Regions from separate parts of the Homo sapiens genome. Here region 2 is linked to region 1. The links come from fine-mapping of genetic effects on gene expression. Tissue or cell type: whole blood. Region 1 holds a variant in brackets; the other region holds the start of a gene. All regions are shown on one strand. Distances are between the middles of the regions.

Evidence for each region. PIP is the estimated chance that this variant, and not a neighbour inherited with it, causes the effect.
Region 2: TMEM144 starts here. The variant in region 1 is fine-mapped to the expression of TMEM144 in whole blood (INTERVAL, PIP above 0.99).

The regions. Positions count from the first base shown.
Region 1 is chr4:158,011,455-158,019,565 of GRCh38, forward strand. The region is part of intron 1 of LOC105377509 (a long non-coding RNA gene); the gene reads right to left. Among named protein-coding and RNA genes, the nearest start is that of GASK1B-AS1, 160 kb to the right of the region's middle. RefSeq lists a silencer at 4,263-4,419. The variant TA/T (reference allele first, on the strand shown) is at 4,165.
Region 2 is chr4:158,206,192-158,214,302 of GRCh38, forward strand. TMEM144 (transmembrane protein 144) reads left to right here and starts at 4,295. Exons shown (of 13, transcript NM_018342.5): 1 at 4,295-4,395; 2 at 5,262-5,383; 3 at 6,417-6,585. The coding sequence starts at 6,477. RefSeq lists enhancers at 3,683-4,237, 4,138-4,227.

The DNA.
Region 1 (8,111 bases):
CTTATCAGTGGGACTGAAACACAACATAAAGACTACTGTCAATATTAAAGTTTTTGGCAAAGAGTGTGCACCTGAATCATCTTCTTTGTGCAGGGAGGTAGGATTAGGCACTGGGTTTGTCACAGAGCAAGCTGTTGTAAAGAAGTGAAGTGGATCCTGGAGATGGTTCTGTTGCAGTGGCAGTACAGTATCTCACCAGGTAGTGGCTGGAGTTGGCTCCAAGTCTCTGGCAGGGGAACACCTTGACACACGTCTGGGGTCGCTGGCACTCCCTTCCTCTCTGACTCCAGCCTTAAGGTGAAGAATTCCATGTAGCTTCTTGTCCTTTCCCCTCAGCTGTCTTTGCTTCACAAGGTTTTAGCCCAAATAAAGAGTACAAATCCCAAAGCCACATAGAAATGAACTTTCTGCTAACTGGAAGCTTTAAGTGAGTAAAGGTACTTTATAATGAAAAATGCATACATTTAGTTTAGGAAAACTGAGATGTTAACATGTACCTGGTGAAATAAGAAGAAATATCATCCTGATAATTCTCAAATTTTCTTCCCCTACAAGCACTGATCTCTAGCAAAGTGGGAAGAATATGTAAACTTCACTGTCATCATATAACATATTTCTGTTTATTAGGTGATTTTGTAGATAGTTTCAGTTTCATATTTAATATTATTTTATTTTCTGTTTATTTTTTAAATTAATTCTTGGCTCAATTTGGATCATGTGCTTTTAGAAAATTATTTTAATTATGATAGGAGACTTAAGTTGGTTATTTAGAGAGGACTCTGTTTGTTTACAGTTTTATGATCCTTCTCAAATGCTTTAAGAAACTGAAAGCCTGTAAAGCTTTCATGCATACTGTGAACTGCACACTTCAGTTCACAGAAGAGATTTAATTAGAATATGTTGATGATGAGCAGTCCATCTTTTTCATGTAGTATAATTTATTAGACATAAAGGTGGCATTATTTATACTGTTCAACCATACTTACATATATGCAAATATGAATTTAATTTGATTGTCTTGTTTAACCCTTGAAAAGCACTGAAGCCATCAATAGACAACCTTTAAGATGCTTCAGGGGAAGAGATACTTTTCCCAATAAATGTTATTGCCCTTCTGTCATTAGTAATTAGTATTTTAGCTTCATAGCTTGTTCTTTTGTCTAATATATTTCTGTAAATCTTTCATTCTCTAGCCAATCAATCAGAAGAAATTTTTAAGAGTTGATGGATGGTATGTGTGTGTGTGTGTTTTCACATAAATCAAAGTTGTACAGCAAGTTTGATTGTCATGCTGAGCTTGTCAAAATTAATCTAAGATTTATCATAAAGAAAAAAATGATTTTTTTCTGTTATATAGTTTGTGAGTTAACATAGAATGGTGGAGTAAGTAGCCTTTAGAATATACTTCCAATTCAATTAGTCCTAAGGTTTATATTACATTAAAGTAAAAATTCTCTGGACACAAACAAATATTAAGAATATATATAGTATTCTGAAAAATATGTTAATAAACTTCATTTTAATTTTATTAAATAGCACATTTTCTGTTACTTAATATTATTTAGAGAAGCAGGAGAATGAGAGCAATGAACACATGTCAGATGAGCAAGTAGAGAGGAAATTAAAGGACTAAAGGCATTGTTTCTGAAAATAAAAAAACCAGGCTATGGTCATACTGCCCTGAATGCGCCCAAACTCATCTGAAAACAAACAAACAAAAAAAAACAAACAAACTTTAAAACCAAATTTTAATATACGATAATAAAATTTAAAAAACAGAGAGAAAAAATCCATAATGTTCTCAATGGATGGTGAACAAAATGAAAACATGGTTTGATTTAGTTTGGTTTTTGTAAGAAAATGGAGTAAATTTTTCATCCAAACTCCAAATTCAATTTTGTTTAAATGTCTCTGATCTGTCCTTTAAAATGGGTGATTTCACTCAGTCTCTTAAAACACAAACACGCACAGAGCAGGAGCAACACCCCTACTCTGCAGTTGGGTAGTTGTTCTCCAGATTCTAAAAACAACAGCAAAAACAAGTTATATGAGGCCTGTTCATGTATATTACCTGATTTGGTCCTGCTGAATATAGAAGAGGCTATCTTTGCTTTGAACAAATGACACATTTTGTGATTCATTTTTAGAGCCTAGGAGAGGAAATAGACAGCAGTTGCTTTGAAACAGAGAAAGAAGACAGCCCACTCCTAAGAAATAAACCAAAGATCTCTAGAAAGTGCCACTGGGGTTGGGTTGACAAGGAAGTTAATGATAAGTGACAATAAAAACAACAATTAAAAACCTGAATTTATCCTAAGCATTTATTTCTTTTAAAAGACACTCTAACATCTTTTATTGTTTTAATTGAAGAGCTATATAATTTTCCTATTTAAATCTATTTTATTTCTCTTGCCTATTCACAAGCTCAAACAGAAGTCTTCTCCTTTTGCTATGTGTTTTTTTCTCCTTTACAAATTGGACTTCTTTATTACCAGCACAAAGCTTTAAAAATCCACATAGACCAGAGTGACCACTTGACTCATTTTTCAGAGATAACAACACTAAGCTCTTTTTATTTTTCTTTAGTTGCACTGGTGATTATCATAGATCACATTGCTTGATAGATACATAAGGCATGAAAATTGTTGGCCACAATGTACTAGGGAATGGTAAGGAAGATACTCTGAGTCATAACTAAACCATGGGGTTTAATATTTTGTTTCATTAATTTAACAAATATATAGTGCATGCTATTCTACTAAGTATATACAGTTCCAGGAACTGAGAATACAGTAATAGTTATTGTTTATACAGTAATGAGGAAAAACTTAAAACATATAATTAATAAATGCTATATGGGACCAGGTGCAATGGCTCATGCCTGTAATCACAGCACTTTGGGAGGCCAAAGCAGGCACATCACTCGAGGTCAGGAGTTCGAGACGAGCCTGGCCAACACGGTGAAACTCCATCACTACTAAAAAAAAAACGAAAATTAGCCAGGTGTGGTGGCATATGCCTGTAATCCCAAGTTACTTGGGAGGCTGAGGCAGAAGAATTGCTTGAACCCAGGATGAGGAGGTTGCAGTGAGCCAAGATTATGCCACTGCACTCCAGCCTGGGTGACAGAGCAAGACTGTCTCAAAAATAAAAAAATAAAAAAATAAAACTCTGCATGGTCTGTCTCATAATACCACTAGAAATAGTCCTAAATTGTGAATTAACTATTTTAATAGATTTGCTTTTAAAGCTGAAACATATGAAACTTATAAAAGACAATAAAATCACATATGTACTGTTTTTATTTATTTACATATCTAGTTCTCCTATCACTAGACTAAGTTTTAATCCCCAGTAACTACCTTTGCAAAGCATAAAATAATCAAATACATATTCATTTAATCATTGGATTTAATTATAATCCCAAAATATTAACTTAGAAAACATAAAACTGTCAAACCTCAAGTATCCTCAATGTTAAAGCTTTTATTTTACTTTGAATTTCTTAAAACAGGTTCAACTTTCCCAATGCCACTTGGTTAGCAATTGGCAGAAATAAATAGAAATTTGGCTCTGCTCAGAACACATCCTTTTCATTGAAACTTTTTTTTCTATCAAGGCTTTTAGTTGAATTTTTTTCAAAGTGCCACAAATATAAAAGAGAATTAGCACTATATTTTAAATATAAAGCAATACAAATAAATAAAATTGGGTTGACTATTGATTAAACAACATTTCCAGTACCTTCTAAAACTTATTTTCTTGTGACATAACTTTTCTTCTGAAAGATTAATGCTAGCTAGAGATAGCTAGTTGTTTGCCAAACACTAGGTCGAGTTGGGTATTTCTGTGTACCGAAGGGTAGAGTTGCTCTGGAAACTGGCTTCTCTCACAGCCTTGCATGAAATTAGGGTCAGATGATTGGGTTCTGGCCAAGAGAATGTGAATGAAAGTGACATGAACTAGGACTTTTCAAACTTTCGTTTTCATAAAGACCACCTGAGAAACTAGTTAAACCATCTATTCCTGAACTCTACCAACAGTTTCTAATTCAGTAGGGCTGGAAAAAGGCTGGTTTGTGGGTAATGCTGATGCTATCTGCCCATGACTCACACACTGATATACATGACTACTACTTTGCCCATATCCAGTAAAAAAAAGAGA[TA/T]TTTTTAATAATATCATTATTTCTATGTTATGAACGAACAAAAAAGTAACCATCTATTTACAAGTAGATAACAACTGGTTATATTCTCTACCATCAATTTTTGTTGTGGACAATTACAAATTCCATTTATTTGTTTGTTTGTATGTTTTGGACAATTACAAATTCCATTTATTTGTTTGTCTGTTTGTTTGTGTTTGAGACAGAGTCTCACTCTTGTCACCCAGGCTGGAGTGTAGTGGCACCATCTCAGCTCACTGCAACCTCCACCTCCCAGTTACAAGTTATTCTCCTGCCTCAGCTTCCCAAGTAGTTGGGATTACAGGCACATGACACCATGCCCGGCCAATTTTTGTATTTTTATTACAGACGGGGTTTCACCATGTTGACCAGGCTGGTCTCGAATTCCTGACTTCAAGTGATCTGCCTGCCTCAGCCTCCCAAAGTGCTGGGATTACAGGCATGAGCCACTGCACCCGGCCACAAATTCGGTTTTTAATACACATATTGCAAAGGTAGAAAATCCTATTCCAACCAGGGGATAGTTATATGAAAAAAAAGTTGGCAGAAGAGTAAGAACTATGAATTTAAGACATCATTTGTTGTCTCTGTATTATTCCCAAGAAATCATAGCCAAAAGAAAGAAAAAATGATGCAAAGTGAAAAAAACACTAGCACATATTTTATCCTTAGAAGATCTCTACTGACCACCATGATGGTGGTAATTACTTTATGATGTAAACTACAACAATTAAGCTATTCCTAGCACACTTATTATGAGCTTCAGAAAATCACAAGGATGCAAACACAACTAAACTACATTAATGTGGACTCTCTTTTCAGCATAAAAACAAGATGTTCTACGGGTATGCCAGGAAAAGGTTTTTGGCTTAGGCAACTCCTTCCAGAAACAGTTACTCTATCCTTCAGTCCACTTTTTAGTTTACTTATAACCTTCTCACAGCTCAATAGCTTCCCTCTTCACCTTCATCTTTTCACCTCTGGCACAATGTGGAAACAGCTCATCCAATGCCTAACTCAGTCTCCATGGTTTCAACCCATTATTTCAACATCCTTATAAAAACATTCTTAGTACTCCTGGAGTAAAATTTTATTTCACAATATGTCTGCTATTTATGATCCCCCTATATCTGCTTAAGCCTGTAATCTTTCAAAGCAAGCACCTTCAGATAGCTTCCCGTTATTAACTTGAGATCAAGGATTAGTCTCCACTGTATAGTAATTATTCAAGGTGGACAATGAAGGTTTTTGTTTTTCTTGCCCTACCACAGAGCTGAGAACTCTACCCAAAAATTATGTCATCATTTTTTCCTGCATTTGTAGTAGGCATTAGCATCATTTGGTGAATGGGATGCTTGATGTAAAAAGTAGTTACAACTTGCCTAATAACACAGTCAACATTTTTAGGAAAGTTAACATTAGAATGGAAGACTCACAAACCCAATATATGTATATATTGTATATGTACATATATTGCGTATATGTATATATTGTATATGTACATATATTGTGTATATGTACTAACATATACACAATATATGTATATATTGTATATGTACATATATTGTGTATATGTACTAACATATACACAATATATGTATATATTGTATATGTACATATATTGTGTATATGTACTAACATATGTATATGTATACATATATATTCTAAGCTATTTAACCTTTAGTAATAATTATATTGTAAAAATTAAAATGGCCCCAGAACACCCAGATCTGTGTTTGCAATAAATGAAAAATTGACAAATTATTTATATTTCATTATCTCTCTCGATTATATATTCCATGTGGCAGGCACCACACATATCATTCATCAATCACAATAATACAGTGCAGCATGGTACGACGAATCTAAAAGGTGCTTGGTAAATATTAGTTAAATCAATGTTGAAAATATTAAGTAAAAATCATAAAGTATGCCTGAAGAAACCTCATTTATTCCTGGCTTTTTTTTTCTTTCACTTTTATTTTACTTCGTGTCGTGGTTAAGAGCACAGCTTCCAGAATCAGACTGCCTGGGTTATAAGTCATGGCTCCTCTATTGAGCAAGTTACTTAACTGCTTCGTTACTCAGTTTCCCCAGCTGTAAAAAAAGTATAACAATGCCACATAACTCAAATAAATTTATGAGAATTATATGAGAAAGTTCACATTGACCTCTTGGGTTAGTATTGTAATCAGTTAGTAATTGTTCACTATTATGAGACTTTTCACTTGATATTGGTAAACAGCTCTGTTTTTTAAATTTATGATAAATATACCAATCATACAGAGATATAAAGGATGGAAATTAGATCAGAGAATATCACAAAAATATGTTCATCATAAAATAAATAAAAATAATGGGTCTTTATATTTGAAATCATGTCTAGAACATTATCTAATACCCATCATTTCATTCTAATTAGGGCCTTATAGGTAAATAGAGTTTCTTGATATTCTATTGTTTTATTTCAAGACAGGAAAATAAAGATATGCCGCATTTTAAAGGTGCACAGTTGCTAATGAAGATACCTGAAATTCAGCTGTCAGCCCTCTGAACCATATATTAGATCAATTCGACAGTTTATTCAGTTAGTACCACTGGCAGAATTTCTCCATAATTCTTACCATATGTACTTTTTTCTGCATTTCACTTCCCTTTTTGCTCTTTTGCTCTCTCTCTTCAACTTTATCTACTTTTTGTTGCAATTGTTTTGGTGATTTTATTGTTATCATTGGTGGTGGTGCTGGTGATAGTGGTGGTTTTTGGAACAATTGCTTTTCCTTCCCTAGCTATCTCTTTATTTTTCTCTTTCCATGACCTAAGAAGCAAAAGTGCCCAGTAATACACAGGAGCCTTGCTTTGTTAGCAGAATTTGTCATTTGAACTATGTGACCTCTATAATCATTTGTTCTACAGATGCCTTCTTTAAAGACTCATTTCGGAACAAGAAAAGGCTTTCAGACATTCTCCAATGACTAGCAGCATTTGCCATCCATCTTTAAATGGGTAATTCCCCTGTCAAAGACCTAGTCTCCTAGATAATTATATGCAGAGAACTATTATTTATTTTCCCTGCCAATGCACTGGAATCATACCAAATAAATCATGTGCTGTGGTATTAAATGTTGGTGAAATAAATGAACATGAGGTTTTAGAGTGACATGTCTTGGGAGTCAAAAGTACCTATGAGCTAAGGCATTTATCTCACTTGTTCAGGAGCTGACATTGGGTTCAGTAATTGGAAATTCGCATCATAATATTACAAAGGACAAATATTCACCCATTTCCATTGAGATGGCTTCCTCTTTAAAAGAATTATTTAGAGAGATTTGCACTGCTCTCTTGATATTGATAGTTTATTCAGCTGTTGAACAATAACTTAGGTTTTTCCAGACCATCATTCTGCACATGTTAAAGAACTCCCAAACCACCAGGCTGGCTTAGATAAATATCAGACTCTGGATAACTTTGGTATCAAGGAATAATGTGAAAGATAATCCTCTTTTCCTAAAAAGATGGGATGGGGAGCTACTTTTGAAAATAAGGTTTAGAAATAACTATTTTACTGTGAGATATGTTTATATTATACTAATGTATGCAATAAGTAGCATACAATTTTATTTTAATCACTATATTATAATTCTATGAATCTTACATATAGAAAAAGAATAGTAATAAAATATTCTCATCTTGAAAATGAGATAGTGTATGGTGGTTTTTCACTTTTCTATATTTCCTACTATGAGTGTTAATTATTTTTATATTTAAAAAATGAAATTAAGGTTACTAAAAATATTTTAAATGTTAGGGCATAATACATAAAGTAACACTTTCTCCCTTGTATCTCTTTATTATCATTCAAGTTTTCTTGCTATTCTGTCTTAACCTGTACTGTTCCTTCAAGTAATAAACATCAAAGGATTACTGT
Region 2 (8,111 bases), 190 kb after region 1:
ATATTATTATTTTGAAGTTATCTATGCGATCAATTAAGAATAAGAAACAAATTATAGGTTGGTGGATTTTTCTTTCAACACTCTAAATATTTCACTCTACTCTCTTTTTCCTTGCATGGTGTCTGAGAAGTCTGATTAATTCTCATCCTTGTTCCTTATAAGTAAGGTGATAGTTTTTCCTCTGACTCCTTTCAATATTTTCTCTTTATTTTCCACAATTTGTATACAATATGCCTACATGTAGTTTTTTTAAAATTTATCTTGCTTGGTGTTATCTGATCTTCCTGGATCTGTGGTTTGATGTCTGTTATTAATTTTAGAAAGTTGTCCACCATTATTAGATACCTAGATAACTATTATTTATGTATCTTCTGCTGCTTTCTTTCTTTTCCTTCTGGTATTGCTATTACCTGTATTTTATGCCTTTTGTAATTTTCATACAGTTCTTGGAAATTGTGTTTCTTTTTCCTATTCTGTTTTCTGTTTCCATTTAAGTTTGGGAAGTTTCAACTGACATACCTTCAAGCTCACTGATTCTTTTGCAGCTATCAAAAGTGATTCTCTTTTCTATTGTAGTATTTTTTGTTCTCTAACATTTCCTTTTGATTCTTTGAGTTTTCATCTTTCTGTTTATTCGTTCTTGCACTTTTCCCAGTTGATCTCTTAGCATATTAGTCATAGCATATTTTAAATTTCCAGTCTCATAATTCCCAAATCCCTGCCATATCTGAATCTGGTTCTGAGGCTTGCTTTGACATTTCAGAGCTGTGTTTTTTCTTGCCTTTTAGCATGCCTTATAATTGTTCATTGAAAGTGAGGCATGATGTATCAGATAATAGAAAACAAGATAAGTAGACCTTTAGTTTTTATGTGTATTGGGCCAGAAGTTAGACTGTGCTTAATGGTTGTTGTAGCTGTAAGTATCAGAGGCTTCTATTTTCTCTAATATCTTTCTTTTTGTCTCCCCTATTTGTTGTCTTTGGGTTTTCCTAGAGACTCATTTTTAAGCAGAGTCTGTGTCTTGCAACTCTCTCTAGTTGTGATCCACAGTTATTATACCAAAACACTATTTATGTGGTCGTAAGATATTGGAGAGTTGATACATTCTATAATGTTATGATAAAATCTCTATTTTTAAATTCTTATTTCTTTTTAAACAATTTTAGATTCAGGAGGCACATGTGCAGGTTTCCTACATGGATAGATTCTGTAATGGTGAGGTTTGGGCTTCTAGTAAACCCATCACCCAAATAGTAAACATTACAGCCAATAGATAATTTTCAATCTGCTCTCCTCTCCCACGTTTCCCTGTTTTGGAGTCCCTAGCATCTATTATTTTACCTTTATGTCCATGTGTACCCATTGTTTAGCTCCCACTTATAAGTGAGAACATGCAGTACTTGATTTTCTGTCTGAGTTATTTCACTTAGGATAATGGCCTCTAGCTCCATTCATGTTGCTGCAAAGGACATGATTTCACTCCTTTTTATGGCTGCGTAATATTCCATAGTTTATATATACCACATCTTCTTTATCCAATCAACTACTGATGGACACTTAGGATGATTCCTAATTGTGAATAGTACCCCAATAAATATATGAGTGCCAGTGTCATTGATTATAACAATTTCTTTTCCTTCAAGTAGATACCCAATAGTGGGATTGCTGGGCCAAATGGTACTTCTATTTTCAGTTATTTGAGAAATCCCCATACTGTTTTCCGTAGGGGTTTTACTAGTTTACATTGTCATTAACAGTATATACGCATTCCCTTTTCTCTGTATCTTTGCCAACATCTAAAACTCTGTTTTCTAGTTGTCCAGAATCCCTGAGCTGTGAACTTCATAAGGGTTTCTTCTTTTGTTTTTCTCCTTATGTGAGAAAGAAAGTGTAGAAGGTGTTCAAACTGTCTAGTTGCCTTTTCTCTAATTCAGATAAAGCTCTGGGGTAAAGTTTACCTTGAGGACAGGCTTTTGTTTCTGAGTATATTTCAAATAGTTATTGTTTTCCTCCCACATGCCAGAAAAAAGAGGAAACTTTTGTCCTGTCTTCTGAAAGTAAAACTCATTAATGTGTGGATGCTCCCATATGAATGACTCCCACTGTCTCTGAGTTTTCAACTCTCAAGTTAGTCCACACTCAGCCTTCAGCAATAGGCCAAATACTGTATAAATGCCCCCCTATCCTTTACTGGCTCCAGTGGCTTTTGCTGTCCTGATAAGCTGTAATTCTCCGTATTCACCTATTTCTTCAGTTTGCAAAGAGGTGGCATGTCCTATGACATCAATTCTCTGCAGATCTAAAAAGAGTAGTTGATTTTTGATTTGCTCATTTTTTTCTTGTTGTGATGATGGAAGTGGAGACTTTCACACCTTTCAAATGTCAGAGCAGAAACCAGAAGTCCTAGTAATAATGTTATATATATATATATATATATATATATATATATATATATATATATATATATATCTCTTTTGACCACATAAAAGGGGGAGGTGCACAGGTCTTATTATTATCATTTTACATATAAGAAAACTAAGGTTTAAAGAGATTAAATGAGTTTCCATGAGAAATATTGCTAACAGACGAAGCTAAAGTCAGAACCTGGATCTTCTAGTGTCTGCCAGGACTCTCCCAATACAGACCATTCTGTTTAGGCATTCATGTATACGAAACAATTTGAAAGAAAAATTTTAGTTTAAGAATAGAGTCATGCATGTTTGGATTTGCTCTGTGGCATAATGTAAAAGGCAATGGCCTAGCATATCCCTAATGAATCTTCTCAGGCCTAATTCAGCCCCCAACTCACTTTTAGACTTTAGAAATTCTCAGCAAATGCTGACACAAGCTTCAGTTTCTCCATGTGAGTGAAGCAAGAATAAACCACATGATCTTGTGACCATGAAGTGAAACAATTCTAGGTTGGATTTAGGCCCTATATTTTTGGAAGCAAGTTTGTGTATGTGTGTGTGTCTTAGGTGTGCATGTGTGGAAAGGGGAACTGATTTCTTCAAAATCTTTCTGAACTGCTAAATTAATCCTCTTCCTTAAGTGAAAAAGCTTTGCTGCTTTAATTCTTTAAATGAAATGTTATTTTGCCTTCCCATCTGCTCATCTGACATGATAGTCTATGGATGTGATTAATGTTTAAGGCAGAACTTCCTTCTAGGAAATGTCATATTTTAACAGTCCTTGTGTTTTCTCCTTCCTGTGAATGCTACACCCATTACCAACCACTGGATGGTCTCGGGTTAAATAGCACTTCCTCAGAGAAGGCTTCTTTGAACTCAGACTAGCACAGAACCTACACTTCCCCTTTCCAACTTAAAGTTTGCATCCTTTGGTGTATGCGAACCCACATGAAGAGATGTTTTTTTTGTTTTGTTTTTTTTTTGAGAGGACTCCCTCACTTTGGGAGGGCGAGGCGGGCGGATCACCTGAGGTCAGGAGATCGAGACCATCCTGGCTAACACGGTGAAACCCCGTCTCTACTAAAAATACAAAAAAATTAGCCAGGTGTGGTGGTGGGTGCCTGTAGTCCCAGCTACTCAGGAGGCTGAGGCAGGAGAATCGCTTGAACCCAGGAGGCGGAGGTTGCAGGGAGCCGAGATTGCACCACTGCACTCCAGCTTGGACGAGAGCGAGACTCCGTCTTAAAAAAAAAAAATACAGATAAATGGCCTGTACAGATAAATGGCTTAGGTGCATCTACAAAGAATTAGTGATTACAAGTGAAATCTTGTAATGTCACAAGAAATGTTAATGACGTCAGTGGTGCAGATGAATTTCTTAATACCAAGTGGAAAAATTCACTTGAGATAATCTTTTACAATGGTGTGAAATTCCTCAGACTTTTGTTTTATCCATAAACTGCACAAATAATACCTCCCTCTGTGACACTTAGAGAGGGTGACATGCTGAGAGTTTCCTGAATAATCACCTCTTGAAATACACAAAACTCTTCTAGTTTCCTGGTTGACCGACCCAGGGCTTGACGACTCCTTTTGAGCCACCTGACAATTCAGTCCAGCACAGCAACTGAAGGAAGGCGTTCCCCAACCTGCTGTCCTATGAAGGCCTCTAGGTCACCGGTGCTAAAGCCCTCCTTTCTCCACCCTCCTTAAGTGGAGGTAAACGTCCCAGCAGGAAGTCAAGGCTGGATTGGCGCTCTTCGCGAGCACCCTGGGAACGGGAGTCTGGGTCACGGGTGCTAGAGCCCTCCCCTCTCCTCCCGGCCGGTGTATGGGAAATTGTCCCCGCAGAAAGTAAAGGCTGGCCAGGCCGCCCCCAGCACGTAGAGGGAATGAGTCAGGCTCCGGCTCCACACTGGCACGTAGTGGGCGGATCGCGCCGGCGCTGAGTAGGAAGGAGCTTCAGCCGCCAGCCCGGAACGCAGTGAGTACAGCCACTCAAAGGAAAGCCAAGTCGCTTTGCAGGGGAGCGTCTCATGATTTTTCAGAAACGTGCTCATGGTTAAAAAGAAAAATCAAGGCTCGGAATAAATACATTCAAGCACTGTTAATTTTAGCCCAAAGACAGGCGGTACTTGCCTGGAGATTTGGGAAAATCAACATGAAACTAAAAATGAAATTTTAGTTGGAGTGGAGCAAGCAGTATTGATCAGAACATACCAAATACGAATTTTTTCAAAGTCTGCGTAGAAGTTTAAATTACTAGGAAAAATGTAAAGGAGAAGTATTTACTAATAAATGAAACAAAAGTAATAAAATAAAAATGAATTAATATAGTTTGACAAAATATCAGCGAACGCTGAAAAGAAAACATTAAAATAATGTTTGAGACTTTTTAGGTTTTGTGCAGGAAGAATTGGGAAAAATGTGCTGGATGGAGTGATACTGCTTTTCTTTTCCACAAAAATTTCATTATTTTAGAGAGCGGTAGAGCCTTTTTAAAGACAGTAAGTTATTGCCAATTCACAATGAAATAAGATCACATGCTCTGAAATGTACAAGAGCTGCATGCAATAAACTTCATTTATCTATAGGTAATAACTGATTGATGTTTATTCAGTAGTCGAAATGCACCTCATGCACTCTAATTAGCACGTCAAATTAGTCTCTCCGTTTCAGAGGTGTAGGGCCTTTGTGGAGCCTTCTCAATAAAATAATTTGCCACTCTTGAAGGTTAGACATTCTCTTCTATCAATGTACACATAAAGGTTTTGTTTTGCTTTGCTTGTTGTGAATTAAAATGGGGAGAAAATGATGTGTTAGCTATCACCCAGTCATGTGTCTTTTTAGTCATAGGTTAGCTTTTCAAGACACTTCCTGCATCTCTGACCTGTTGCACCTCTGTTATCTTGGCACCTCTGTTATCTTAGCAGCAAGCACCTGCCTCAGCTGACCCTTGAGCCATAACCCATGTAAGTCACTGCAGGGCTGAACCTCTCTTTGAGCCTAACAGTAGAATAATAATTATTTTTATTGAATAGTGTTAATGTGTCAATGTTGAAATGTGCCTCAGTGTGTCTTCCTCAACCACATCCCTATAGAGGATGTTTTCTTAATAGCAATGTGTTTTTGTTTTAAGAAAGTCCACACAATTTCAAATACACATTTTCTTTACTAAAGTTTATTGACCAGTTTTGAAGTGATCCTTGTTTTCAGTTAAACTATCTTTAATAATGGTAAATAACATATTTTGTAGGTTGTTGTATATTTAATATTCTCTGCAAGAACACATAAGGAACAATACATGGACCTTTAAATATTTGTCATTGTGAAATAAAATAACAAGGAAAGGTGATTTCAGGTGTACTTTATTCAATACATATATACAAGAAGTTATTACTATAACATTAAATTTGCAGGAAAAAAGAAACCACTGGATTATTCTGCTTCTATTCCAGAGGGCTTATTCCAAAGGGCCAGTGTGCAAAATATGAATCCAAGATGGCATTGTGGAAAGACGCTGTACCTCCTGTGATAAAATTACTTTGGTGGTGCTTTTTTCTCATGTATCTCGGGAAACTAAAAATCTGAATTGTATTCAGTGGCCTTTTCCAAATGGTAACTTTATGAAAAAATGTCTAATTCTTGGTTATTTGTGGTTTTAGTCCTTTCTTCATAGAGAAGCTAAAGCTGTTAAATAAGCTTAGCAGCGTTATCCGCTAAAACTTTCTGCAGTGATGGAACCTACACAGGAGAATTTTTTTTGTAATGTACTAAAAATTTGTCTTCAGGGCTTGTTCTTTTTAAATTGTAGGCTAGTGATCAAAAATATTTGGTGATAGAATAAATTAACATGAAGTACAAACATTATATATAGTTGTGTAATATCCTATCTGCAAAAAGGAGTCTTAGCGTGCTTTTGAAAAATTCAATAAATATAATATGTTAATCACAATTTGGTCACAGATTCACGTCTCAATTGTTTCATTTTTTCTTTTATTTCAGAAGCTCCTGAAAAGTACATCAAGTCTAAAGTGAACCAGCTAACTCATTAAGACTGGAATCATGAGCAACAATGGAGCAGACCTAACCTTTGGTTACATCTCCTGTTTTGTAGCTATCCTTTTGTTTGGCTCAAATTTTGTGCCACTTAAAAAATTTGATACTGGTGATGGTAATTATTTTTCCTTGATTGTTAACGTTATATTATTTTTAAAAATGAAGTTCCTTTTTTGGTCTTTTAAAAGTATAGCTACAAAAATAAATCATGTTGATCTTGATACCTAGTGAATAGAGCTTAAAATTAGTCATTTGACAGTGCTCATACCAGTTTGTCTGAAAGTCAGAATAGGAGAACCATTAAGGTTGTTTCATGGTAAAGTTAGGGAGGGTACAGTCAGGAAATCTCTTGGGCCATTATATGAATGGAAGAAATTTATAGTCAGTTCTACTATAACACCTGTTTTGAAAACATGAATCTTCAACATGATTGATATATTAGAGAACAATGTAAGCATAACAGATTTTTGGCTTGCTTATGTGCAATTTTGTCCCTGAGAAACCTCTAGATAGGCACAGAAGACTGCACCTAGATGAATAAAGATGTGTGATAATACACATAATGCACGCAGACACACGTACAATCTTCAAATATCGACCAGCTCCCTTAGTTCATCACATGTGGTTATGATGTATTCCACCCAACCACATCTCCTGTCCCAACTCCTCACCCAATACCTTCACAGTAACTCGTAAGCTGCAACCCTTTGGATGCTCACTTCCAGGAGCAAACTTCTGGTGTTTTTCAATTAAAATGCCCTATTTATTACAGCATCATGTAATTAACCAGTTAACCAGTTAAAACTGTACTACTATTTTAATTAGGTTGAGTGTTGTTCTCCTAGCCCCATTTTCCCATTATGCTCTGTAGTTTTTACTGCATGATTTTGCATAGTGCAGTGATTTCAAGGAATGCACATGTTACATTATAGCAGAACTGACTAATGTGAATTTTGGGGAAGGAGAAGCAAGAGTTATTTGTATTTGCCTGACTTCCATATTAAAGCCAGGAGAAGGAATTGAGATTTATGGTGAACACATGTTGGGAATTACTTCCTTGGTAGTATTTATCACCTGACAGCAGTTGTGTTATTTCCCCAATTCTTTGTCTTCGTGCACTTAGAAAATAGGATTACCTCCTATTTTCCTCCAGGGCCTTTCTTCTCTTTTCCTCTGGAGTTAGGACAAGAATGGGAACTACCCGAAGAACAAAAAAATGGGTAGAGGATCTAGCTTTTTTAGTCTTCCACAATTAGCTTTGTGATCCTGGGCAAATATTACCAGCTCTGCTGTTTTCAGTTTCTCATTTGTAAAGTGAACAACTTATAAAATGAAGTTTCTTTTCATCTCTGTGATTCTACTCTTTTTATTTTTTATTTTTCATTTTTTTGGGGAGATAGAGTCTCACTCTTTCACCGAGGATGGAGTGAAGTATCATAATCTTGGCTCACAGCAACCTCCACCTTTAGGGTTCAAGTGATTCTCATGTCTCAGCCTGCCAAGTAGCTGGAACTACAGGCACACACTACCACACCCGGCTAATTTCTTATATTTATGGTAGAGACGGAATCTCAAGGGCTGGTCTCGAACTCCTGAGCTCAGGCAGTCCACCTACTTTGGCCTCCCAAAGTGCTAGGATTA